Linked DNA regions of Homo sapiens. The protein of the gene in region 3 purifies or fractionates together with the protein of the main gene of each other region. This does not show direct contact. Each region holds a gene or a part of one and is shown on either strand. Other genes may lie near its edges. The genes, in order: NPC1, POGLUT1, PTPRK, MANBA, SCARB2, CD109 and SUSD1.

Region 1 (3,500 bases), on a different chromosome or scaffold from region 3:
TGATGATGACCGGAAGTCTCTGGCCTTGATTTGGAAGCTTTGGGAGGTGGAAGATGAGTATCCCCATGTATGTTAGGTAAACCCTGAACTTAGGTTTTTCATAAGAACATACATCTGACCAGAGTCATATCAGTGAATCATTTATATCATGCATGTGCTTTGAGACCTATTCGAGGTATCATGGGATGACTCCTCCTAAAAGTTAAGTAGAAATGAATCTTGCAGCTTGATTTACTCACTGACTGGATGCTTTGGCCTACGTAAAATAAGTTGAAGTAGATTCAGTTTTTCTGAAGGCAGTAGCCACCGTTCCTGGGGAGCCTCCAGGGTGCCAGCGTCATGCCAGGCACTCCCTGACATTATTCCATTTCTCATCACGCAGCCTATGAGTAGGTGGTGGTATACCCATTTACAGAAGAGGAGACTGGGGCTCAGAGGTGGTCATTTTGCTCGGGGTTACATGACCAGTAAGTGGCAGGGCTGAGGTTGTTCCCAGGGCCCTTGCCCTTTCCTGCTTCCTATTACACAACAGGACTGAGTAAACCCTGTACCTTTGATTATACATGAAACCAGGTGGAGAAACAGCAGCTATGTACCAAAGAACCCAGAGCAATCGAGAAAAGCCCATCTGGCCAGGCGAAGTGGCTCACACCTGTAATCCCAGTACTTTTGGAGGCCGAGGTGGGCGGATCACCTGAGATCACCTCAGGAGTTCAAGACTAGCCAGGCCAACATGGCAAAACCCTGTCTCTACTAAAAAAATACAAAAGTTAGTTGAGCGTGGTGGCAGGTGCCTGTAATCCCAGCTATTCGGGAGGCTGAGGCAGGGAGAATTGCTTGAACCCGGGAGGTGGAGGTTGCAGTGAGCCGAGATCACGCCACTGCACTCCAGCCTGGGCTACAGAGCAAGACTCTGTCTCAAAATAAAAAAAAAAAGAAGCCAGTCTGGGAGAGAACAAGCTAAACCTTTGGTGTTCCCTTATCTGGGGGCCTTCTTCATCCCTGAAATGTACAGCTGGGTCTGACCTCTGAGTCCAGGGTCAGGTGATTTTGCTTAGCCTCAAGTGCTCAGATTCTGCTGATATTTTGCAAGACCTGGACTCTCTTGACACCCAGGATTCTTTCCTCAGGGGACATGCTGCCTATAGTTCTGCAGTTAACATCCTCCTTGGCCATGGCACCAGGGTCGGAGCCACGTACTTCATGACCTACCACACCGTGCTGCAGACCTCTGCTGACTTTATTGACGCTCTGAAGAAAGCCCGACTTATAGCCAGTAATGTCACCGAAACCATGGGCATTAACGGCAGTGCCTACCGAGTATTTCCTTACAGGTAAAGCCTGCCCTTTTTCAATGGGGTTTACCCAGCAAAGGGCCTACACTGGGTGGGAGTGGGGAGGGTTCCCTTGGCAAGATGCTGATTTTCAGGTTGGGTTCTGGCCCCTGCTCCATTCTGAGCACAGGGCAGTATATCAAAGGAAATGGGTGCTGGGCAAAGGAGTTCAGAATCTAAAGTCTCTGTGAAGGCCTGAGGGCTAGAGACGCAAAACTTGATCTCTGCGCCACTGCACAGCTGCAAGAGACACACACTGGAAAATGGCTTAAGGCAGGGGGCGCTTGGAGAGCAGGCGGCTCAGAGCAGGGCCCGGCCCACATTCTTGGCCAACAATGAACCAGAATCCCTAACTGCTGGTTATTTGGGATGCTGCCTGTATGTAGACTTTTTATATTGTTAGGGGTTTTTTTTCCCAGGAAGAAAAGTATTATGTATGAACTACTGAATTTAGAAACTGTAGAAAGGTAGGAGAAACAAGTGATTTATTTTTCCTGCCTCCCCATGATCTCGCTTAAAGCAGGAAGGCCTGGATTTGTTTGGAAGAAGTTAAGAGCCGGTTAGCTCTGGCAGAAAATAAATGAAAGCATGTTTTCCTCAGGCCTTGCACGGACCCCGCTGAGCCTGAGGTAGTGTCTCAGGATAGATCAGGATTCTTTGTTTTTTTGTGTTTTTTCAGAATGCTGTGGAATGCTCTCTGTAAATGTCTATAAAATAGCATAGATTGGGCTTATAAACAGAAACTTTATCAAAAATATACATTTTGCATCACTGCTGGGCCCTTCTCTGGGTGGTCAGTGGCCATGAGAGGTCAAGTGAGTTGCTTTCGGTGAGTCTTGTAGACAGCCAGCAAGGTTTTCTGCAAGGGATGTTTCCCAAAGGAGTCTGACCACTTGGCAGTGGTGACAGGATGAACACGCAGTGTTCGGGAGTGAGAGCGAGCTTTAATGAGGCCTCCCCTCTCCCCTCCAGTGTGTTTTATGTCTTCTACGAACAGTACCTGACCATCATTGACGACACTATCTTCAACCTCGGTGTGTCCCTGGGCGCGATATTTCTGGTGACCATGGTCCTCCTGGGCTGTGAGCTCTGGTCTGCAGTCATCATGTGTGCCACCATCGCCATGGTCTTGGTCAACATGTTTGGAGTTATGTGGCTCTGGGGCATCAGTCTGAACGCTGTATCCTTGGTCAACCTGGTGATGGTGAGTCCTCATACAGTCTCAGTTTGTCCCTAGCTCCTGTTTCACTTGGGGGAATTGGCTGTCTTAGATTCCATGTAAACCCTAAAGATGGAGTAAGATACCAAGTCTGGCGCTTGCTCTTGGCACACATGGAGAGGCAGGATGAGTGCTGGAGGAGTGCTGGATGGTGGTGGGACAGGGCATAGAGGGAGCGAGCATTGAGTTGGACATCTGGGAGCATAGGCACATTACAGGCAATTTCTGTTCAATTTTTTCTCTTGTCCCATTCCTTGCGGCTATACTAGTATACCTGATGGTGCCTCTGACCATGGAAATGTGATTTCCTGGCCTAGTTCTGGGCTAGTCTGCCTGTAATTTGTTATTCTTTAGAGATTGCACAAGCCTGTAGCCTGATGACAGCAGGATGTTCACTTTTTACTTAGAAAATTGCACCCCGCCCCAGGAGCTCTCCGACCAGTGCCTTTTGCCTCCTATGTGGTTATCAGGTACTTTTAATCATTAAAGATGAGAGCACTTGAGAAGGTATTCATGGAAAATAGAACAGTGTATCCGTACTCTCAGATATGAGCCCTGCTTCAGATAGGGGAGCACTGAGGTCCAAGAAAAGAAGTTGTGACAATGCGCCAGCTCGGTGCGGGTGGGGTGACCTTAACGGGTTCCAGCAATTTCTCCTGGTCAACACAAACGTGCCACAGAAAACCAGGCTTTTGGCTGTGTGTAGAGAGGGCCCCAAAAAGTTCCTGGTACAGTAAGATTGGTGTGATGGAGGCCTTGTAAGTCCAATGGGATGCTTGGCCTCCTCTAGCACCCAGGGTGCCCTGGGTAATTAGCACCCATCCTCAGAACGGGGTGGCTGCCTAGGGTCTTCAACAGGAAGAGAGCCATCCTAAAGGAAGTGCTTTATTTCAGAGCTGTGGCATCTCCGTGGAGTTCTGCAGCCACATAACCAGAGCGTTCACGGT
Region 2 (3,500 bases), on a different chromosome or scaffold from region 3:
AAGGTGTTATCCAGTTACTCCACCGTGTAGTTATTAATACCATTTTCCCCCAGGTAAACTAGTAAGCAATTTTTAGGCAGATAGAATGTTTTAAAGTCTAATCTTATATGAATACTTTTTTCTTTTGATACCTTCCCATTTTATTCAATTGAATTTATTCATGGTTATAGAAATACAATTTTGTTTTTTAGAACCCTCTGTTTAGAATCTCTAATGATGTTCATTTGTTACCTTGAAAATTTAATAATCTGCTTGTTTATCCATCTGCACTGATGTCTGCCTGCCACTGTTCATTCTATTTTTCTGATATTTTGGGAGTTTGTGCCCACTGATTTATATTTCACTCTGTAGAAGAATTCATTGTTCTTTACAGATCGAAGATTTCATTTGTTACTGTCAGAGAGGGTTTAAAAAAGAGGGCTGGGGTAGCACCAGGCTGTGGTGGCCACCGTTAGCACTTGCCTGGAGAAACAAGTCCTAACCTAGGTCTTTTGAGGGAGGATGGGTAGGTTAGGAGAATGAAAGAGAGAGAACAGTGATACACAGTTTGGGTTTGTGTATATGAAACACAGCTTCCCCAGGAGCCAAGGAAATAAAGAGAAGTAACTTTGAGTATAAATTGATACATGTTTTGTTAGATAGTTTGACAATATGTATCAAAATTGGAAATGTATACTGTGTATCCTTTGACCTAGCTGTTTCATGTCTAGAATGTATCCTAAGGAATTAATCAGATGAATGTGCAAAGATTTGTGTACAAGGATGTTTACTACCATGTTGTTTCTTAGAGCAGAAAGTTGGAAACTACCTAAAAGTCCATCAATAAAGGATGAAGTGAATCATAACATGACTATAAAATGGAATTTTTGCAGTGAGTCTTTGCCAGAGATTATAAAATGGAATATCGTGCATGAATGGAAAGGCAGTGTAGGTTTTAAAAACTCTGGGTTCAAATCCTGGCTCTTATTAGCTGCATGACTCTGTGCAAGTTGCTTAACCTCTAAAGGACCTCATTTGTAAAATAGGGGTGATAAAACCTACCTCTTAAGATTGTGAGAATGATTTTTTATTTACAAAGCACTTAAAACAATGTCTGTAACATAGTGAAGTGCTATATAGATGTTGGCTGTTATTATTATTTATATTTCCTATTAAGATTGTTACCTAACAGTATGTATGGTGTGACCTCTGTTACATAGAGCAAAGTTTCTCAGTACTAGTGTTGCTGACATTTGGGGCTGGATAATTCTTTGTCCTGGGAGCTGTCCTAACCACTGTAGGATTGTTCAGCAGCATTTCTGATCTTTACCCACTAAATGCCAGTAGCAGTCCCCTAGTAGTAACAATCAAAAATGTCTACAGACATGGCCAAATGTCCCCTGGGTGGGAGGGACGGGCAAAATTACCCCCAGTTGAAAGCTACTAATATGAATAAATGATTGCAAGGAAATTCTCGGCTAAAATGTTACATTGTTACCTCTGGACAGGGAGATTCCAGACGACTTCTTACTTTTATCTTTATGCTTTTTCATGAGAACTTTGCATGAGGAGCATGAAACATTTTCCACTAAAAACAAAACAACAAAAATCCAGTGCTATAGTGTCTCTGCTTGGGCAGGAAGAAGTATGGGGAAAACAAGATAGTTCTGGCCTTAGACTGGAGAATCAGGTAAAGGTGATCCATCCAGAAAAGGCCAGAGGATGAGCCACGTTGGCTGAGGGTGGAGGTCTGAGGGCCTGGAAAATACTGAGCAGCGTTCTCAGCTGAGTGAAAATGAGCAGCATGACATTATATGTATCTGAAAAGGACCTGTGCCTAGAAAGTTTATATCCTAAGTTTCTCCGTTACTGTAATCCAGCCCATCAATCCCTCATTAACTTCAGTTCAGCCTTCCCTTCCTTTTTCAGAGAAGATGCTGTGCAGACTTCTGTGCAGGGAGGGTTCCTACGAAGCAAGTTAAGAATGATGCATCTGTGAGCTAGCAGTTTCAGTAAGGAAGGCTGGTCATGGTAATGTGTACTGAGATCTGACTTTCAAGGACTTCATCTTTATAGAGCACTTAGTCTGGCTTTAAGAATACAAAGGTGCTTTTCAAATATCAAACTAAATCTGATGACACTTCCCACCTATGGAAAACATAAAATCAGAGAGTGATTTCCCTTTCATTCCATTTCTGATGCTTTTTTATTTTTTTGCAGTTCTGTACACATAATTAATTTCATCAGTAGCACCCTACTTAAAGTACAGAGGAAATCCACATTTGCCAAATTATAAACAGACCTAATCATGACCTTCAGGGTTTGGGGGCTTTTCTTTCAATGTTGTTAACTTGTTAATGGGGAGTAGATTTGTAGATACAACTGGGTAGCACCTCCAGAGCAATGAAATGGTAGCAAAAGGAAACAAAGTGTCCTTTAGGGCTTTTTCTTTTGAGTGACTTTGATTAGACTTACTTAGAAATATGAAGCTCTGGCCAGGCACAGTGGCTCACGCCTGTAATCCCAGCACTTTGGGAGGCCGAGGCAGGCGGATCACGAAGTCAGGAGATAGAGACCATCCTGGCTAACACGGTGAAACCCTGTCTCTACTAAAAAATACACAAAATTAGCCGGGCGTGGTGGCGGGCGCCTGTGGTCCCAGCTACTCAGGAGGCTGAGGCAGGAGAATGGCATGAACCCAGGAAGGGGAGCTTGCAGTCAGCCAAGATCGCGCCACTGCACTCCAGCCTGGACGACAGTGCGAGACTCCGTCTCAAAAAAAAAAAAGAAATATGAAGCTCTGAACTAATCTTCAGAAATGGTTAAAGCACATTCTTATATAGTTGAAAAAGATATATTGAAACTAATTAAATTCTATATTCTTAGGTCAGCAGCACAGTGGCCATGGAAAAAGAAAAACTCTACAGCATATTTCCGAGGATCAAGGTGAGTTATTTTCTGACATTTTACAAAGATATTCTTCCAAGTAATGTAAAATGTAAGTAACTTTGAGGGTATGACAAGCTCTGTAGTTCAAAGGGAAAGCTAAGATAACAAAGAAAGAAATGTGGAATCACAATTTTAGATTCGAGAATAATTCACATTATTTGCCGAAATCGCCATTGATTGAGTTGATATTCAAAGAAGTAAAGTTCATCCATTTCAGTCATTTAACAGATATTTTACATAGTGTCACAAATGTGTCGGTCATTGATTATGTGATGCCAAACACAACAGATGGGTGTCTTCTTACAGTCCCTAGGAGTAGCTTATGATCATGCCACGGTACTCTGCTGGTTAATGCAGAGCAGGACTCATCACCATATCTCTTGACTGCCTTTTTTATCACACCCTGTGGCTGCCAAATAGTGGTTAAGAGCACAGACTGAGACTGCTGAAAATGAAGAAGGGAGCAGGGAGGAAAGAGAAGAGAAAAATGGCAAAGGTAGTAGGAGGACCCTGTGTTGTTCAGCTCCATAGTCCCAAGGCCAAGAACAGTTCCTAGCATGTCAATATATGAT
Region 3 (3,500 bases):
ATCATCAACACTGATTAAACACAAATCAGAGGGTGGGGTGTTCAGGATTCACGGGACATGAATGTAAAGGAAAATAGTAACTTTTTGGAAGGTCCCAGAATGGCACAGTTTAACCATAGATTTTTTTTTTAATTAAAAAAGGTGGGAAATCAGTTAAATTTGAAGGTAAAAGTTGAATTCTGAAGTCAGAAATGATCCCACTGATGATTTTAAGACTTGACCTGAAAAATGGAGGCAGAGTTTACATCAAGAAATCTTCAAATCGCAAAGTTTAGAGACATAACCACTATTCATTTAGTTGCTAAGACGATCTGAGAGTTCTCCCTCAAAAATCCCTCCGATTCATCCCCCCTTTCTCATCTCCATAGCCAGCACCCCAATCAAAACCAATGTAATCTTGTGTAGACAGCTGCAACAACCCAGGGAAATGAGGTGGTGTAGGGAGTTTGAGGACACCTGTAGAAAGGGTGGAAGTCTGGTACCGCTTGTAAAAGTGAAACAGTACAAACCTAAGTCTTCAGATTTTGTCTCAGGAAGCAACGCAACTCTTGTGCGAGCAATCCATGAGCAGGAAGTGGTGAAATACTTTAAAGGTTTATTGAATTGCTCATTCTAGTTATCTGATCATCTTGATAAATGTAGGGCAAGCAACAATGATGCCTTGGTTTTTCTGGTTTACTTTTCTGTGAGCATACACTACACAGCTGCTCCCAACCTGATCCCACCATGCACATACATATGTGTAACCCACAGATATCTCTCGTTAGAAGTAAAATGTGTTAGATAAGTGTAACTTTCTTTCTTACTCTGCATACAGCTTCACCTAGATGAACTGTCACACACACACATACCTATCAGCTCTTATTTTGTAAGCTATGTTCTGACTTTACGAGCCTTGACAAGCTCAAGTAGCATGATATGAACTGCCCTCTACAGTTGGTAAAAGCTGAAAACTTAACCATGATAGTTTAACCATTTACAATTTGATCAGAAAATGAATGAATAATTATAGATAATGACAAAACTAAATTTCATTGCCTTTTAAAAATACTGGGTGTCTAAGGTACTGATGAAACCTATATCCCTTAGACATACAGCCTTGATATAGGATTTATTCTTCTTATAGGACCATTTACCAAAGTTTACTGCAGCAAATATTTTTTGGCTATAACAGAAAAAAAATCCTACAAATTTCCCAAATTAAATGAAAATAGTTTCATGATTAGCAGTTTATGCAATACGTGATTAAGTGTCTGTGGGTAGAGGGGGATGCTCAGCAATGTATTAATTAGGCAGGAAAGTCCCCACAACGTCTCATTTTCACATCTGATTCCCTATGTGTGTATGAAGTCAAATCAATAAGTAGGTATATGACTAACTAATCTCTAAGATGCCTTCCAAATCTAAGATTCTGTGACTCACCGGGGCTTCCACCATGTTTGGCTTGCTGTTCCTCAGTGTCTTTACTGCATGGAAAACATCGACAACATTTTGCCGTTTCACCATTTCAACAACGATGCCTATAGCACAGAACATGCCACTTCGCCCGCCACCATTTCTGAAAGCAAAGAAAGCAAAGGCATTTTAGATAGCAGCACCAAGTGACCACAGGTCACACCATCATATATGTTTGGGAAAATAAGACATTGTAGTTTTAATTGTTTTCCATTTGTGTCTTAATTTTGCTTTATATGTGTACAAGGCAGAGAGGAGAAAACTTGAGGATGAAATTAGATCAGTAGCTTATACTCAGGAAAATGCTATAGGCATAGATTGCTGCAATCTAGACTTTGAGATTCTGATATATTTGTAAACTGTGTAAATCAGAAGTTGTTACGAGTAGTGTTCCAAAGAGTTTAAATAATATAGCTATATAATAATCAATATTTAGAAAATATACAAAATAAACTTAGTAGTTAATTATAGACTCATGAGACAGGAAGACTGTTTAAAAATAACATCTATGGGAGGTCCATAAGATGCAAGCCAGATAGTCTTTAACATTGAAAATGAGAAAATAAGCACCAAGGCCCCATGAATGACAGGCTGAGCTGCCCTACTCACAGGCAGTGGATAATCGTCCGGCCTTCCCCTTCCTCGCATTCCTCCTGCCACTTTTCCACCTGAAGTATCAGTTTCAAGAATGACCTTTTGGATCCAGGCACTTCTCGATGAGAAGCCCATCCTAGGTACTGAAACTGTTGCACCATCAGATAACCTTCCTGTGGCTGTAGAGGGAAGTGTTTTTATGTAAATACGCTGGGACTACAATTTTTACTAAAAAGTAAAAGGTGCATATAATTTACAATACAAATGGCATCTACACTGGATTGAGTCTAGCTGATATAAATCCTCAATATGTACATGCTAGTAAAAAAACATTCTAAGTGACAACAGCAGGAAACATGGCAATCATCCTTTATACCTGTTTCTCCCTCGCACTATGTATCCAGTAATTCATTACTACGATTACATTTCCTAAATAACTTTCAGATTCATTGCCTTCTCTTTATCACCACTGACATCAATACACTACTAGTCACAGGTTCTGATAATTACCTCCTAGCTGATCTCCCTGAATAAACTTTGATCTCCTTCCAGTCCATTCTTACTATAGGCATCATGATTATTTTGAACTGCAGATACAATCTTGTCATTTCCTGCTTTAATGATTTTCAAATGATCTTAGCATAAAATCCAAATTGTTGTCATGGCTTAAAAAAACTTATGTGATCTGGCTCCACCCCCTTCTTCAACCTTCTCTTTGTCTTCTTTTAATCCATATATCAAGTCTCTTCTTGCCTTGGGGACTTTGCATATACTGTATGTACCCTTTGCCTTGAATACTTCTTCCTTGCTTGGTCTTCTCAATCCCAAATAGAATGACCAACTTGTCCCAGGTTGGCCTGGGACTTCTCTGGTCTTAGCACTGAAGGCTGTGTGTCTTGGGAAAGCTCCTGCCCTGGGCAAACCAGGATGGTGGGTTACATCAACCCCCAACTAATTTCTATTGATTCATTAAATTTTGGCTTAAATACTACTATCGCAAAGAGGTCATCTCTGATCACACAGTTATGTCAGATCACCCAGTTAAACACTCTATATTCTTTACTCTTTCACTGTAAAATGCATCACTTTTATACAAAAAGGATTATACAATTTTCATGTAATGCTTTTCTTCCTGAAAAAAATAAAGATTCCTTAAGTACACGGAAATCTTTTTTTCCTACACTCTGTATCAGTAGAACTTTGCATAATACTTCCCCAAAAGTAGTAGTGTTGAAAGAATGAATCAAAACCTTAAACCTTGAAATAAAAATATCAGGAAGAATATGTAATATATGAGTAAATCATATCAGATTGGCAAGAGCCCATGCATCTTTTGGTAGATTACAAGCCCTACTTAGTACTCTACAAACTTGTTGGTACATGTTAAATGTTTGATGCAGTTAAATATATTAAATATATTAAATGATGAGAGTGAGAACAGAAAAAAAATC
Region 4 (4,284 bases), on a different chromosome or scaffold from region 3:
AGTGTGCCACCTGCCTTACATTATTTATTAATTTGGTATATATGTCTATCTCCTCCATTAGAATGTCCATTAGGGAAAGGACTTTGTTTTCTTTACCACTCGATTTCAAGTACTTAGAATAGTGCCTGCCACATTAGAGGTACAAAATAAATATGAGATAATTAACTAGGTGAATAGATAAATAAATGAATGATATCACCAAGATATGTTTCAAGTTCTTACACAAACACAATATTTGGCCCAGTGTCTACTATAAACGGTAGAATATTTCCTCAAGTCAACACCAAAAAGGGATGTTATAATAAAGCAGGTCGGACAACAGTCTCACATTACTGAATAACGATACTGATCTGATGTTGATGATTGCTTCTTTACTTTTTTTCTTTTTTTTTTTTTTTTGAGAGAGGGTGTCACTCTGTTGCCCAGGTTGGAGTACAGATCACGGCTCACTGCAGCCTCAACCTCCTGGGCTCAAACGATCCTCCCACCTCAGCCTCCCTCGTAGCTAGGACCACAGGTGTACGCCACCACGCCCAGTTAATTTTTTAATTTTTTGTAGAGACAGGGTCTCGCCAGTTGCCCAGACTGGTCTAAACTCCACCTACCTCTGCCTCCCAAGTGCTGGGATTATAGGCATGAGCCACTGTGCCCAGCCTGATGATTATTTTCAACAGGCCTTGTGTTTCCTAAGCCCCAAAAGCCTTCCCATTTCTCATTCCACTGCCATTTGAGACCCATGGCCACCTGATTGAAACCTCAAGGTTTTGCTAAGAATTTATGAAGAGAGTTAAGAAATCTCTTCAAATTGTTCCTATGAGGAAGTTATTTCATACTATGAGCAAATTCATTTTCATTAAGTATCTGTTGTAACCAAACGTTGTTTCTTAGCTTCTTAGCTCTGTAATATGGCACAATAATCTGACTTACTGAAGCCACTCATTATTTCCCATTGGCTTAATTCTTTCTTTCTTTTTTTTTTTTTTTAGAGATAGAATCTCTCTATGTTGGCCATGCTGGTCTTGAACTCTTGGCCTCAAGAAATTTTCCCACCTCGGCCTCATAGACTCTTTCTATGTTGGCCATGCTGGTCTTGAACTCCTGGACTCAAGGGATCCTCCTACCTTGGCCTCCCAAAGCTCTCACGTACCAGCACCCATTGGCTTAATTATTTCAGTAAAATCAGGCAAGGAGGAACCCTACAAAATAAACACAGGCATTCTCAAAGCAGATATAAGTGAAAACTCAGAGTATACTGTGGTCAGCTGTGTTCTCTATCACAAGTAGTTTGTCAACTTAAAATAAAGTACTAAAGTTTGGGAATGATCTACTCTAAAAATACATCGGACAATGGTCAATGTCATTTACAACATTCACCTCCTTTCTGATACACATCTCAGGAAAAAAAAAAAAAAAACTACTAAGTACCAGGTCAGAAATTTGGCACAACCCTAGATGACCACCTTGTCATGCAAATAAACTTAGAATGGTGCTCCTGAAAGTCAGCCACAGTGCTTCAAAAACACATGATTTTTTAAAACACCAAACTAAGCATACCACATAGTATAGAGACCAGGCTATGGAGTTGAGACCACCTGGGTTAGAATTCCATTTCTTTCCATTTAGTTGCTGTCACCTTCCTAATTTCTCTGTGTTCCATAATTCCATATTATCCATAAAATTCAGATATGAACACTTACTATACAGAGTTGTTATGAGGATTGGACAATGTATGCATCCCACAAGTAGATCAATTACAAGTACATTTTGCCCCAAGTAAAGACAACACGTGGGAACGCTGTGCAAGAGGGAACAGCAAAAGCAGTTGGAGGATGGAAGTCAGTTTGCAAACCTATGCGCACAGGCAGCCAAACACGAAAACGTTCCCCACAAGTAGTCTGTAAATTGGAGACTCCATTGGGATACACACACACACACACACACACGCCCTGAGAGGAAATAGCACCTTTCTTCATCACCAAGTTAGCCTTAAAAATTATTTACCCGTTGTTAGCCACACTAGCACTGACAAACCCAACTTTACTCTTGTAGGTCATTCTCCACAACGTCTGTGCTGCGTCAATCCCAAATCTGACTCCCTGACGCTTAACAGCGAAAATAAAAAACCGAGACATTACTCAATAGAGTTAACCCTTACTTAACAAAACGCTGTTGTCCCCTGTGGCGTGCAGACAGTAGAGACAGTAATTCCCGACCTTATGCTTGTCAGTGACGGCATGCCCTTTGTATACACGCTTCAGTAGAGAACGACTGCAGTAAGTAAACTGCTAGTAGCAACACTGTTCCCCTATCTAAACTTCCCCTTTCCAGAGTTACTGATGTCCCAACATGGGTCGGTCGCTCAGTCTCCGTCAAGCCCGTACCCCATAGCTTGGGCATTTCCCCCCGCAGATCACAAGATGCAAAGGGGAAGTTACTACCAAACCGACGAGAATGGCCCAGAGCTGGGGGCTGCCAGGCGGTTCCTGGGCCCCTCTCAGCACCAGAAGAAGGCGGGCGCAGGCTCGCCGCGGGTCGGCCGCACGCCATACCTGGATCAGGCCCTGCTGGAACAAGGCGCTGTGCACGCAGCCAGGGACCGCCCCGGGCAGCTCCAGCGAGCCGTTCCCATTGCAGATGCTCCAGTTGCCACGCAAGCTGTAACTGAGCTCCGCGGCGGTGGTGCCTGCACCGCACAGCGCGAGCAGCAGGAGCAGGTGGAGGCGCATCTTGAGATCCCGCGCCACCGAGATGTGGAGAGATCGAAAGGCAGCGCTGCAAGGGACCGGCGGTGAAGCCACTCACCCCCTCGGAAGTAGCCGAGGCTTTAGGTCCCCGCCCCGGCCCCGCCCCTAGGTCAGCTGAGCGCTCTCCGGGCGCAGCCGCGGGCGGGAGGGGAACGAGGAGGCTGCGCCTGCACCCGCTGAAAGCCGGGCGTCGCGGGTGCGGGAGCTGCAGCCCCCGAGAATAGCTACAGGCTGGGGGGCATTGCGGTCTGAGCCTTCCCTCGGCGCTTCTTCCCGCCGCCTCAGTACATACAACTGGAGGCAAGAATCTTGCACGGTAATTGGGACAGAAAGATCCCTGGGCGCGCAGTGGCACAAAGCCTCGGGAGATCAGAGACCGACTGTACGTGGAGACCATAGCTGGAGAGTCCCCTCACTCCTTCAGAGAACCCAAACTGGGAGACAACCCACCACTTCCCTTCCGCCAAATTTACACAGACCCTCGTCTACCTGGTAGCGTAACACTCACCCCGCTGCAGCTCAACTCGCGGGTCTCAGAGCCTACCCCGCCCTTCAAAGAGTAAACAAGTACTAGCAGTATCTCCATCAGAAGGTTGTTCTGAGGGCTAACCAAGAAAATGCGACTATAGCATGCAGCATGGAGCCTGGCCCAGAGAAGGCATTCACGTTAGCTATTGTTACTAGCGGCCTGCGTCCTTATGTTTCATAAAGCCCCACGGAGGTTTCTGAGGTTCTGGAACCTGCACTAGGCGCGCAGCTGAGTTTAAAATCCTCTGCACTCACTAGCTGTGGGACCTGGGCAAGCCGCAAAATCTCCATCTCCGTTTCTTGAAGTTTTCAAGGTGTTATAAGTATAAAATGAGTAAACATATGTGATCGTCCCTAACAATGCCAGAGTACCCAAGAAATACCACTGACTTATTTCGGGTCTTGTAGTCAAATGGTCTACCTGAGTCCCATTTTTGCAATAGGATGTAACAGTAATCCTAGAAGTTAAGACGGAATTTTACATTGCATAAAATAGACTGCCTTTCTCCTGTGTTGACGCTATCTGCCGTATATTTATGCTTCGGAAGAAGTCCTTGAAAAGAAATTTTCTCTCATCAAATCTGAGCTTTGTTTCGCCTTACAATGGCCTTGGAATTGCCTGATTCTGCAGACACCGGGCAATATCTTACTTTGCAAAGTCAGCATTATTTACAAGCCCTGAATATCTTGGCTTAAAGGACAGTATGGATTATCCAACCCAAGCCGCTGGCTTTACAGATGAGGGAACTGAGTTCAAAGAGATCGGGGCCAGGCGCGGTGGCTCACGTCTGTAATCCCAGCACTTCTGGGAGGCCGAGGCGGGTGGATCACTTGAGGTCAGGAGTTCGAGGCCAGCCTGGCCAACATGGTGAAACCCTGTCTCTATTAAAAATACAAAAATTAGCTGGGCGCGTGGTGGCACGTGCCTGTAGTCGCAGGTGCTCGGGAAACTGAGGCAGGAGAACCGCTTGAACCCAGGAAGCAGAGGTTGCAGTAAGCCGAGATGGCACTA
Region 5 (3,500 bases), on a different chromosome or scaffold from region 3:
ATTACAGGCATTAGCCACCGCACCCGGCCTCAAGTTTTTTTTCTTTCCAAAAAACACTCCATTTTTCACACACTCTATAAGATAACTTAACTCTAGGCAATTTCTAGAAGAAACTCAAAGTTAATCTGGCTTGGGGTGCCCCAACCCACTGTCAGCTAAAAAAAGAGGTTCTGAAAAGAAAAATCTACTTACCTCATAGAATAGGCCAAAATAGGGAGAGATATCGGGCCTGAAAACATGGATAAGGGACAAGATTTCATCTTTGTAGCCCCAGAGCAATTCGTCAACTGTGTGAGTCACAAAGAGCTTCTGCTGATAGGCTTTCAACATGGCCTCGATGATCTCCCTGAGGAAGTGCACCTGGGACCACTCTATGACAGTCTGCGGAGCAGAGGTATATTAAGACAGCAGCATCCCCTCCAAAGCACCTCCATCCACTCTCTCCTACTACCCCATAGCAAAGGGGGTTGGAAATATAAATGTAAAGGTTGAGATTAAATAGCTGAAAAATCAGGCAGTGAGCTCCTTTCTGGCTGCATATGGAAGACAAAGCCTCTTCTCTGTCCTTTCCCAGTACTGCATTTTGTAAGTGTAATATTTACAAAGAGACCATTTGCAGGCTCTGAGTTATCCAGACACCACAAAAGGGGAAAAGCTCTTGTAAACATGTGGGCATCTTTGGCCACAAGGTGGCGCTACCTTCCGCCTAAGCAGGGCCAGAGGCTCATTATAAACCCGACCTACACCCCTGGGACTAGGTGGCAGGGACCTCATACTGTCTAGGTCCTGGGTCCATCATCAGTGTCCAGCTGCATATGGAGCGGTCACCTAGGGGTTAGGGTGGGAGAGTCGGCAGGGGTTGGTGTAGGTGAATTAGAATGTTTACTGGGCCAGCCCAGGAACAGTGGTTCACGCCTGGAGTCCCTGGCCGACACAGGAGGATCCCTGGAGCCCAGGAGGTAGAAGCTTCAGTGAGCTGTGATGGAGCCACTGACTGCACTCCAGCCTGGGCGACAGAGCAAGACCCTGTCTCAAAAAAAATTAATAATAAATAAATTAATTTAATTTAAAAAAAAAGAAAGTCTCATGGGTCTCAGTATAGAATAGATGTAGAATAGGTGTCGTTATTAGGTAGAATTACCATTATAAACAGAGCCCACTGAAATCACAGTAGGCTGCCAGTCTATTGATTTCTGGTGTCAATTTATGAATTTTGAGAGTATAAAATCCAACATAAAAATCTGAAGTAAGAAATGGTATACAAATTTCATTGCTAGAATTTCTGAATGAAAACAAGGGGCAAATAAACATTTTTAAAATTATTAGCTACCAAAAAATCCTAGGGGCATATTTATTTGCACAATTGCTAATCCTGAACACCCAGGAAGAAATTATGAAAACAAATCCTAAAATCTGAATTTTGTCATCATTTGAAAAGACCTTATTTGATACATCTTAGAAAAAAGTCCAAGATGTACTTTAAAGAAAAGAAAAGAAGTATTTTTCTTTTTATATATGTATATTTCAACATAACTTAATGGCTCCTAAATGTAAAATCATAAAGAGCATTAACTTAGCTTTTTCCTTTCTTCCAAAATCCAACTTAATGGTATTAAAATGCCTACTTACCAATACAGGAATATTTAATGTTCTAATTAAGTCAATTTTAGGGTCTCCAACAGATTGGTCTCGTTCAAAAACATAGGCCTTGTTGCTAACAGCAGATATTGTTGTTCCATTATCTCCAAATTGAATATTTGCTTTGTTTCTGAGTTCCCTAAAAGAAAGAAAAGGGTTTTATTTGAAAATAGACACCACTTTAATAAGCAAGACTTTTCCTTTCTTTCAGCATCCAAGTTATATTTTCAATATAACATTCCCAATATAACATTATATAGAGACTGCAGCTACTAAGCCTTAAAAAGCTGGAGATCGAAGCTATAATGTGGGAAGGAAACGAGGCCTAGGATAGAGTCTTCTCAAAAACTTTGTTTTCCTTCTTTTCTTCCCTGATTAGGGAGGTGCAATAGTTGAGGGTCACCTTGACCGGGAATCAAAGCCGATGAACTCTCTCCTGGGTTATGGTTTGGTCCTGAAGTATTTTCAAAATTTTCAGTTTGGTTCACAGATTTAGTTTGAATTTCAATTTGTTTACCAATGTCTTCTTGTTTCTACATTGAATTAAATTGAAATTTTATTTTAAAAAATAATGCCCAAGGCTTAGTAAATTACAGGAGTTCACTCCTGTTTCTTTTTTTGAGATAGGGTCTCGCTCTGTTGCCCAGGCTGGAGTGCAGTGGCATGACTACAGCTCACTGCAGCCTCAGCCTCCTGGGCTCAAACAATCCTCCCACCTCAGCCTCCCAAGTAGCTAGAAGTACAGAAGCATGCCACCACACCCAGCTAATTGTTTTATTTTTTTGTAGAGATGAGGTCTTACTATGCTACCCAGGCTGGTCTTGAACTCCTGGACTCAAGTGATCCTCCTGCCTCGACCTTCCAAAATGCTGGCATTACAGGCATGAGCTACCACACCCGGTCTCTGTTTCTGATATACAGCACAGTTTGGTTCAAGTTAGAGCCCCCAAATGAAGCATTAGAAAGTTCTTAGAAAGCGCCTGGTGCCAGGGCTGGGCCTAGAGTCAGTGTGAGTGATGTAAGAGGTGCCTAAACAAGTAGTAATCAAGATAAATAGTTTAATGCACTATTTATTAAAACCAAAATTTATGCCAAAAATTTATGATGAACAAAATTTTAAATAAAAACAGAATCTGATCTTTTGTTCATCAAATGCCTCACACTAGCCCTAGCCCTAGCCCTGCCTGGTACATAGTAGGTGTTCAATAAATTCCAGTGACTTTTGTTTCTTTCCCTTTGCTTATCTTTCCTTCTTCCTAAACCAGCTAGGGTTATTATGTCTGACATGGTAGCCACTAGTCACATGTGACTACTGAGTACTTAAACTGTGGCTAACTGGAATTGAGATTTGCTGTAAGTGTAAAATATATACAGAATTTCAAAAACAGTGCCAACCTTTTTTTATATTGATTATATATTGAAATGATGCTATTTCAGTTATAATGGGTAAAATTAAAATATATTATCAAAATTAATTTTACCTGCTTCCTTCTACTTTTTAAAAAATGTGGCTACTAGAAAATCTTAAAATCTTAAATTACACATGTGGTTCATGTAATATTTCTATTGAACAGAGCTAATTTAAGAGCACAGGTTAGGAAGGCATTGGCCAGCTGGGCTACCCACACCTCCTCTGAGGCCTTTCCCAACCATAGCAGCACAGGGATTTTTCTCACCCACCTGTGGATGTCCGTACATGTCTTTAGCATTCAATTAGAAACTTCTGAGTGACATCATTTAGATTGTGAAATTATCATGTAGCCTCAGGTAGACTGCAAGCAAGCTGAAGGCTGAAACTGGTACGTAAAAATGCGCCTCGGTGATGATGGAGTTATGTCCCAGTAAACCCATCATAAGTTGAA
Region 6 (3,500 bases), about 54 Mb from region 3:
GCCTACTAGTAGAATAGGAAAATAGTGGGGGTCCTAATAAAGAGAATGACTTTGGTGATCTCATAAAATGCAGCAGGCAGTAAGCAGTAAAGGCATCAATCACCAGGACAGCTCTGGAGCAAACTTAAGCTCGTCAGCATACCTTTCCACGCATACTCATTCTCATCCAGGCATCCATGCCCATTCAACACACTTTTCAGGGTATGGGTGTTCTCAGCACTAAATTAACAGATATTGTAACTGTTCCATGATGTTTTATAAGTAAAAAATCCTTTGCAATCTAAACTTGCTAGAACACATTGTCAAATTTTAAATAATTTTCTTTCCCCTCAGAAATTAACTTTTTCAATGATAAAACATGTATTGACTTATCTTACCAATAGCAAGTACAATACATACATTAAAAAGCATTTTTAGAATTCTCTTAGTTATTCTGAAAGAGTGGGTTAATGTTTTATTCTCAGATTTTGGAACATGGCCACAAATGCAAAGCAAAAGAGTACTCAAATTCAGATTTCACATGTGTTGTAAAGCTGCAACTTGTTAAGTTTCCACACACATATTTGACCCATTAAGACCTACCTTCCTTGAATTTCCCATCTATCATTTATTAAATTAAATACGAAATACCTGATACTTTCTATATCCCAGGAGAGAAGTTACAATATAGGCTGTAAGTGTTACTGGACTTTTATTGCCACCTTGAAGCTCACTATGAATCACTCTTCCTGGATCCCAAAATTCACCGTTGGATTTCTGATGTCCTTTAAGCCAAGTGTATGTTCTGTGTAACACATTCTGATCAATATCTATGTAAGGATCGGCTTCAAGGAAACATCTTAAAACAAAAGCTGACAACCTTTATGAAAAGAGAAAAAAATTACATAAAATACACTTTATAAGGTCCACCAAATAACACCGAGCAAGCAAAACAACAACACTTTTTCCCCCATCAGAAGATTCATCAAAGGGGGAATCACTGAAGATGGAACAAGGAAAGAAAAAAATCAAAAAAGAAAGAGCAAAGGGACAAGGTAAGCAACTCTCTCTAGCAGGCAGAACTGGTTTCCACTTGGGCTTGGCCAAGAAATTCCATGTTGACTCAAAAATCTCAGATTTGAAAAGGAATTTAGAAATGATCTAATCCAGCTCCATTTTTTAATTTAATTTTATTTTATTTTATTTTTATTTATTATACTTTAAGTTCTAGGGTACATGTGCACAACGTGCAGGTTTGTTACATATGTGTACATGTGCCATGTTGGTGTGCTGCACCCATTAACGCGTCATTTACATTAGGTATGTCTCCTAATGCTATCCCTCCCCCATCCCCCCACCCCACAACAGGTCCCGGTGTGTAATGTTCCCCTTCCTGTGTCCAAGTGTTCTCATTGTTCAATTTCCACCTATGAGTGAGAACATGTGGTGTTTGGTTTTTTGTCCTTGCGATAGTTTGCTGAGAATGATGGTTTCCAGCTTCATCCATGTCCCTACAAAGGACATGAACTCATCCTTTTTTATGGCTGCATAGTATTCCATGGTGTATATGTGCCACATTTTCTTAATCCAGTCTATCATTGATGGACATTTGGGCTGGTTCCAAGTCTTTGCTATTGTGAATAGTGCCGCAATAAACATACGTGTGCATGTGTCTTTATAGCAGCATGATTTATAATCCTTTGGGTATATACCCAGTAATGGGATGGCTGGGTGTGGGGAAAAGAAAGAGAGATCAGATTGTTGCTGTGTCTGTGTAGAAAGAAGTAGACATAGGAGACTCCATTTTGTTCTGTACTAAGAAAAATTCTTCTGCCTTGAGATGCTGTTAATCTGTAACCTTACCCCCAACCCCGTGCCCTCTGAAACATGTGCTGTGTCAACTCAGGGTTAAATGGATTAAGGGCTGTGTAAGATGTGCCTTGTTAAACAGATGCTTGAAGGCAGCATGCTCGTTAAGAGTCATCACCACTCCCTAATCTCAAGTACCCAGGGACACAAACACTGCGGAAGGCTGCAGGGACCTCTGCCTAGGAAAGCCAGGTATTGTCCAAGGTTTCTCCCCATGTGATAGTCTGAAATGTGGCCTCGTGGGAAGGGAAAGACCTGACCGTCCCCCAGCCCAACACCCGTAAAGGGTCTGTGCTGAGGAGGATTAGTATAAGCAGAAGGAACACCTCTTTGCAGTTGAGATAAGAGGAAGGCATCTGTCTCCTGCCCGTCCCTGGGCAATGGAATGTCTCGGTATAAAATCCGATTGTATGTTCCATCTACTGAGATAGGGGAAACCTGCCTTAGGGCTGGAGGTGGGACATGCGGGCAGCAATACTGCTCTTTAAGGCATTGAGATGTTTATGTGTATGCATATCTAAAGCACAGCACTTAATTCTTTAACCCTGAGTTGACACAGCACATGTTTCAGAGAGCTCAGGGTTGGGGGTAAGGTTACAGATTAACAGCATCTCAAGGCAGAAGAATTTTTCTTAGTACAGAACAAAATGGAGTCTCCTATGTCTACTTCTTTCTACACAGACACGGTAACAATCTGATCTCTCTTTCTTTTCCCCACAGCTGGGTCAAATGGTATTTCTAGTTCTAGATCCTTGAGGAATCACCACACTGTCTTCCACAATGGTTGAACTAGTTTATGGTCCCACCAACAGTGTAAAAGTATTCCTATCTCTCCACAACTTCTCCAGCACCTGTTGTTTCCTGCCTTTATAATGATCGCCATTCTAACTGGTGTGAGATGGTATCTCATTGTGGTTTTGATTTACATTTCTCTGATGGCCAGTGATGATGAGCATTTTTTAATGTGTCTGTTGAATCCAGCTCCATTATTTTGTAGACTGAGAATCTGACAGTCCAAGAGAGTTAAATAAATTGTCCAAGGTTATTCATCTTTGGACTGTTCTAGATATTTACCAAAGAAGAGCTCCAACACGCTTCAGTCAGCCCCAAAGCTGTGGGTGAAGAATGCATACATAGTTCACAAGCAAACTGTAGTACTTCAGGTGGGGAAAATGATATTTTTCTCTCCTATAGAATGGGAGTTAGCCAACTGCAGCCTGTGGGCCAAATCTGCCTGGCCCAAATCTGGCCCTCAAGCCAAATACAGCCCAGGGCCTGTTTATGTGTGCACCAACCCAGCCCCCACCTGCCAACACCACCACCTAAGAGCGGGTTTTAAAAGAAGGAAAAGAAAAAGACAAAGACAGGAAAGAAAGAGGGAGGAGAGGGAGGAAGAGGGAAGAGCATGCAACGGAGACTCTACGTGGCCCAAAATGCCTGAAATACTTACAATCTGACCCTTTACAGAAAAGTTTGCCAGTCCCTGCTACAAAACACTATACTGAGGTAAAAAGAACATCAAGCAATACAACACTGAAAGCTTTCTATTTATGGTTCTATATCCTGAGTCAGGCCAAGGCCAAGAGAAAATTTGAAGCAGATCTGTTTCATGTTATATAAAGTTTCATGTGGTAAACATTACTGATATTCAA
Region 7 (3,500 bases), on a different chromosome or scaffold from region 3:
ACAGAGTGTACTTACACAAACCTAGATAGTAGAGCCTGCTACTCACTTAGGCTGTATGGTATACCTATTGCTCCTAGGCTACAAATTCACACAGCATGTTACTATACTGATTACTGTAGGCAACTATAACACAATAAGAAGTACTTATATATCTAAATATAGAAATGATACAGTAAAAATACAGAATAAAAGATAAAAAAATGATACACCTGTAATAGGGCACTTACCATGAATGGAGCTTGCAGGACTGGAAGTTGGTCTGGGTGAGTCAGTGAGTGAATAGTGAGTGAATGTGAAGGCCTAGGACATTACTGTACACTTTTATGTATAGTAATGTACATACAGTAATATACATACAGTAATGTACTTGCTGGCAGAGCAGTAAGTTTGTTTACACCAGCAATGCCACAAACACGTGAGTGTGATGCACTACAACATTATGATGGCTACGATGTCACTAGGCAATAGGAATTTTTCAGTCTCATTATGATCTTATGGGACCACTACAATGTGGTCCATCATCATATATAAAGTGCTTAAAATAATACTTGGCACACAGTGCCATATGAGTAGACATGATTAGATATGCCAAATATCAGCCAGGCGCAGTGGCTCACACCTGTAATCCCAGCACTGTGGGAGGCCAACACGGGCAGATAACTTAAGGTCAGGAGTTCAAGACTAGCCTGGCCAACACGGTGAAACCCCATCTTTACTAAAAACACAAAAATTAGCCGGGTGTAGTGGTGGGTGCCTGTAATCCCAGCTACTCGAGTGGATGAGTCATGAGAATCGCTTGAACCCAGGAGGCAGAGGTTGCAGTGAGCCAAGGTTGTGCCACTACACTGCAGACTGGGTGACAAAGCGAGATTCTGTCTCAAAAACTATATATATATATAAAAAATATATAATATATTACATGTAATGTATTATATATAATATATATTACATGTAATATATAATATATAATACATTACATGTAATATATTACATATATTGTATATATTGTATATTATATATAATATATGTTATTCCCACATGACGTTTTTATATATATATGTATATATATACATATATGTGTGTGTATATATATGTATATATATATGTTCATTCCCACATGACTTCTGGGAATATATATATATATATACACCTAACATCAAAAAACTAACATCAGGAATGAAGAAACACCCAAACCATTTCCCTAATAGTCAGGAATAAAAAAATAATATTCAAAGGCAACACTACCATTTAAGTCTTTGTTCTAAAAATACAAAGTGATCAATCAAGAGAAAAACATAACTATTATAAAGAAAGAAAAATTTATGAATGGAATTATGATTTGCAGATGATATGATACTATTCCTGAAAAATCAAGAAAATCACCTGAAAATCTATGAGAAACAAATAGGAATTTTAAAGGTTTACTTAACTCATTTATTCCCTGAAACTGAAATTTAGAGAAAAATATGAAAACAGTTTCAAGGTGGTATGAATTGGGAACCTGTATTTTTTGAAAACTCACCTTGGCAATGTAATTTTGGGGACTCCCATGTGCCCAGGCCTGTGCAGCTTGAAACTGTATCTTCTGGAACACTGAAGAATCCTTCTCTGCAAGCATAACGAACCTGGCTGCCCAGACTAGACGTATAATTTCCTATGATATAGCCATCTGGAACCTCAGGAGGGGTACCACAGTCTATTTCTGAAAATAAATTAATGTCAAATTCATTACCTCGTGAATGTAAATCTTCAAAATTCACAATCTCTCTCCACCTCTACCCTATTCCTCACACACACACACCCCCGAGCCATATTTTAAGTACACTGGTTCATTCCCACATGACTTCTGGGAACATTTCCAACAATTGTCTTTATTCAATCTTTTGGCCTTCCATAGGTAAAGCATCTATACATGCACAAAGCTGAAATAACTTAGCAATCAACCCTCACTAATTTACACTAACTAAAGAGAAGCCTTGTCCAGTGAAATAAAAAATCTGAATTGCAAAATACCTTAAGATATATGTACCTTGATTATTTTCAGGGTCACTTTTGAGATGCAGGGACCTTACCAAATCATTGGCATTTACTATCTAACATAGTAGTTAATATCGGAATATCTATTAACTGCTAATAAAAATCCTTTAAGTTTATGAATTTTAGCTTTTTTTTTTTTTTTTTTTTTTTTTTTTTTTTTTTTTTTTAAGACAGAGATCTCACTCTGTTGTCCAGGCTGGAGTGCAATGGCATGATCTCGGCTCATTGCAACCTCTGTCTCCTGGGTTCAAGAAATTCTCATGCCTCAGCCTCCTGAGTAGCTGGGATTACAGGTGCCCACCACCACACCTGGCTATTTTTTTTTATTTTTAGTAGAGATAGGGTTTCACCGTGTTGGCCAGGCTGGTCTCGAACTCCTGACCTCAAGTGATCCACCAGCCTCGGCCTCCCAAAGTGCTGAGATTACAGAGCTACTGCTCCTGGCCTAATTTTAGCTTTTTTAACATGGCCCCCTGTAACTTGATTGTTGTTATTTGCTTTATGTCATAGGTTGTACAAAATGTGCAAAGGATCAGATCACCTCCACCTGCCTCCCCAACACAGGCTTGGAGCAGAAGAAAGTCACCATCAACAGAATTTCACGTTGAGATGCCGCAATTTTTGGCAGAAACCCACCTGTGCATGATGTGGCATCGGTGGTCGGGTGGAAAGGTTCAGGTCCATTCCTTGGCAAGTATCCATCCATACAGTAGCATTCAAAGCTCCCATGAGTGTTCACGCATCGCCCTCCATGCCTGCACAGGCCAGAAACTTCACACTCATCTATGTCTTGGGACCCAATCCAAATAGAGAAAAGGAGATAAAAACAGAAAAAAGAAAAAAAAAAGGAGAGGATATTGTGACAGCCATTTTTTCACATTTTCAAGCTACTCTTGTAAAAAGATGCATTTGTTTGCAATTGTATCATACATTTTATTTTATGCCTTATGGGTTCTTCTCATATATCGTTCATATCATAGGCACTGAAAACATAGCAAGTGCTCAATAAATGTTTGTCAGTGTGTTCTGGGATTTTACAAAAGCTGATAACCATCACCGGCTCCCTGACACCCAACAAAATGAACCAAAAACATAAATATATCCAATCACTAAAAAATATCCTGACCGGGCATGGTGGCTCACACCTGTAATCCCAGCACTTTGGGAAGCCGAAGCATGTGGATCACTTGAGGTCAGGAGTTCGAGACCAGCCTGGCCAACATAGTGAAACCTCATCTCTAGTAAAAATACAAAAATTAGCCAGCCATGGTGGTACATGCCTGTAGTCCCAGCTATTCAGGAGGCTGAGGCAGGAGAATCACTTGAACCTAGGAGGCGGAGCTTGCAGTGAGCCGAGATCACGCCACTGCACTCAGCCTGGGTGACAGAGCAAGACCCCGTCTCAAAGAAAAAAAAAAAGAAAATCCAATCACTAAAAAATCCAATCACTATAAATATATCCA

The links.
Region 1: the proteins of PTPRK (region 3) and NPC1 purify together in Homo sapiens (affinity purification with mass spectrometry; 3 studies listed by BioGRID and IntAct, with this or other methods). This does not show direct contact.
Region 2: the proteins of PTPRK (region 3) and POGLUT1 purify together in Homo sapiens (affinity purification with mass spectrometry; 3 studies listed by BioGRID and IntAct, with this or other methods). This does not show direct contact.
Region 4: the proteins of PTPRK (region 3) and MANBA purify together in Homo sapiens (affinity purification with mass spectrometry; 3 studies listed by BioGRID and IntAct, with this or other methods). This does not show direct contact.
Region 5: the proteins of PTPRK (region 3) and SCARB2 purify together in Homo sapiens (affinity purification with mass spectrometry; 3 studies listed by BioGRID and IntAct, with this or other methods). This does not show direct contact.
Region 6: the proteins of PTPRK (region 3) and CD109 purify together in Homo sapiens (affinity purification with mass spectrometry; 3 studies listed by BioGRID and IntAct, with this or other methods). This does not show direct contact.
Region 7: the proteins of PTPRK (region 3) and SUSD1 purify together in Homo sapiens (affinity purification with mass spectrometry; 3 studies listed by BioGRID and IntAct, with this or other methods). This does not show direct contact.

The regions. Positions count from the first base shown.
Region 1 is NC_000018.10:23,534,507-23,538,006, reverse strand, and holds part of NPC1 (NPC intracellular cholesterol transporter 1 precursor), read left to right. Parts: intron 1-1,130; coding exon 1,131-1,334; intron 1,335-2,306; coding exon 2,307-2,538; intron 2,539-3,447; coding exon 3,448-3,500. UniProt on the Homo sapiens protein: Intracellular cholesterol transporter which acts in concert with NPC2 and plays an important role in the egress of cholesterol from the endosomal/lysosomal compartment.
Region 2 is NC_000003.12:119,482,463-119,485,962, forward strand, and holds part of POGLUT1 (protein O-glucosyltransferase 1 precursor), read left to right. Parts: intron 1-2,865; coding exon 2,866-2,925; intron 2,926-3,500. UniProt on the Homo sapiens protein: Dual specificity glycosyltransferase that catalyzes the transfer of glucose and xylose from UDP-glucose and UDP-xylose, respectively, to a serine residue found in the consensus sequence of C-X-S-X-P-C.
Region 3 is NC_000006.12:127,971,600-127,975,099, forward strand, and holds part of PTPRK (receptor-type tyrosine-protein phosphatase kappa isoform b precursor), read right to left. Parts: intron 2,229-3,500; coding exon 2,065-2,228; intron 1,559-2,064; coding exon 1,423-1,558; intron 1-1,422. UniProt on the Homo sapiens protein: Regulation of processes involving cell contact and adhesion such as growth control, tumor invasion, and metastasis. Negative regulator of EGFR signaling pathway. Forms complexes with beta-catenin and gamma-catenin/plakoglobin.
Region 4 is NC_000004.12:102,758,169-102,762,452, forward strand, and holds the start of MANBA (beta-mannosidase precursor), read right to left. Parts: upstream 2,801-4,284; 5' UTR 2,727-2,800; coding exon 2,550-2,726; intron 2,285-2,549; exon of another isoform or gene 2,156-2,284; intron 1-2,155.
Region 5 is NC_000004.12:76,179,325-76,182,824, forward strand, and holds part of SCARB2 (lysosome membrane protein 2), read right to left. Parts: intron 1,778-3,500; coding exon 1,630-1,777; intron 382-1,629; coding exon 193-381; intron 1-192.
Region 6 is NC_000006.12:73,804,203-73,807,702, reverse strand, and holds part of CD109 (CD109 antigen isoform 1 preproprotein), read right to left. Parts: intron 860-3,500; coding exon 631-859; intron 1-630. UniProt on the Homo sapiens protein: Modulates negatively TGFB1 signaling in keratinocytes.
Region 7 is NC_000009.12:112,140,798-112,144,297, forward strand, and holds part of SUSD1 (sushi domain-containing protein 1 isoform 2 precursor), read right to left. Parts: intron 2,827-3,500; coding exon 2,674-2,826; intron 1,703-2,673; coding exon 1,523-1,702; intron 1-1,522.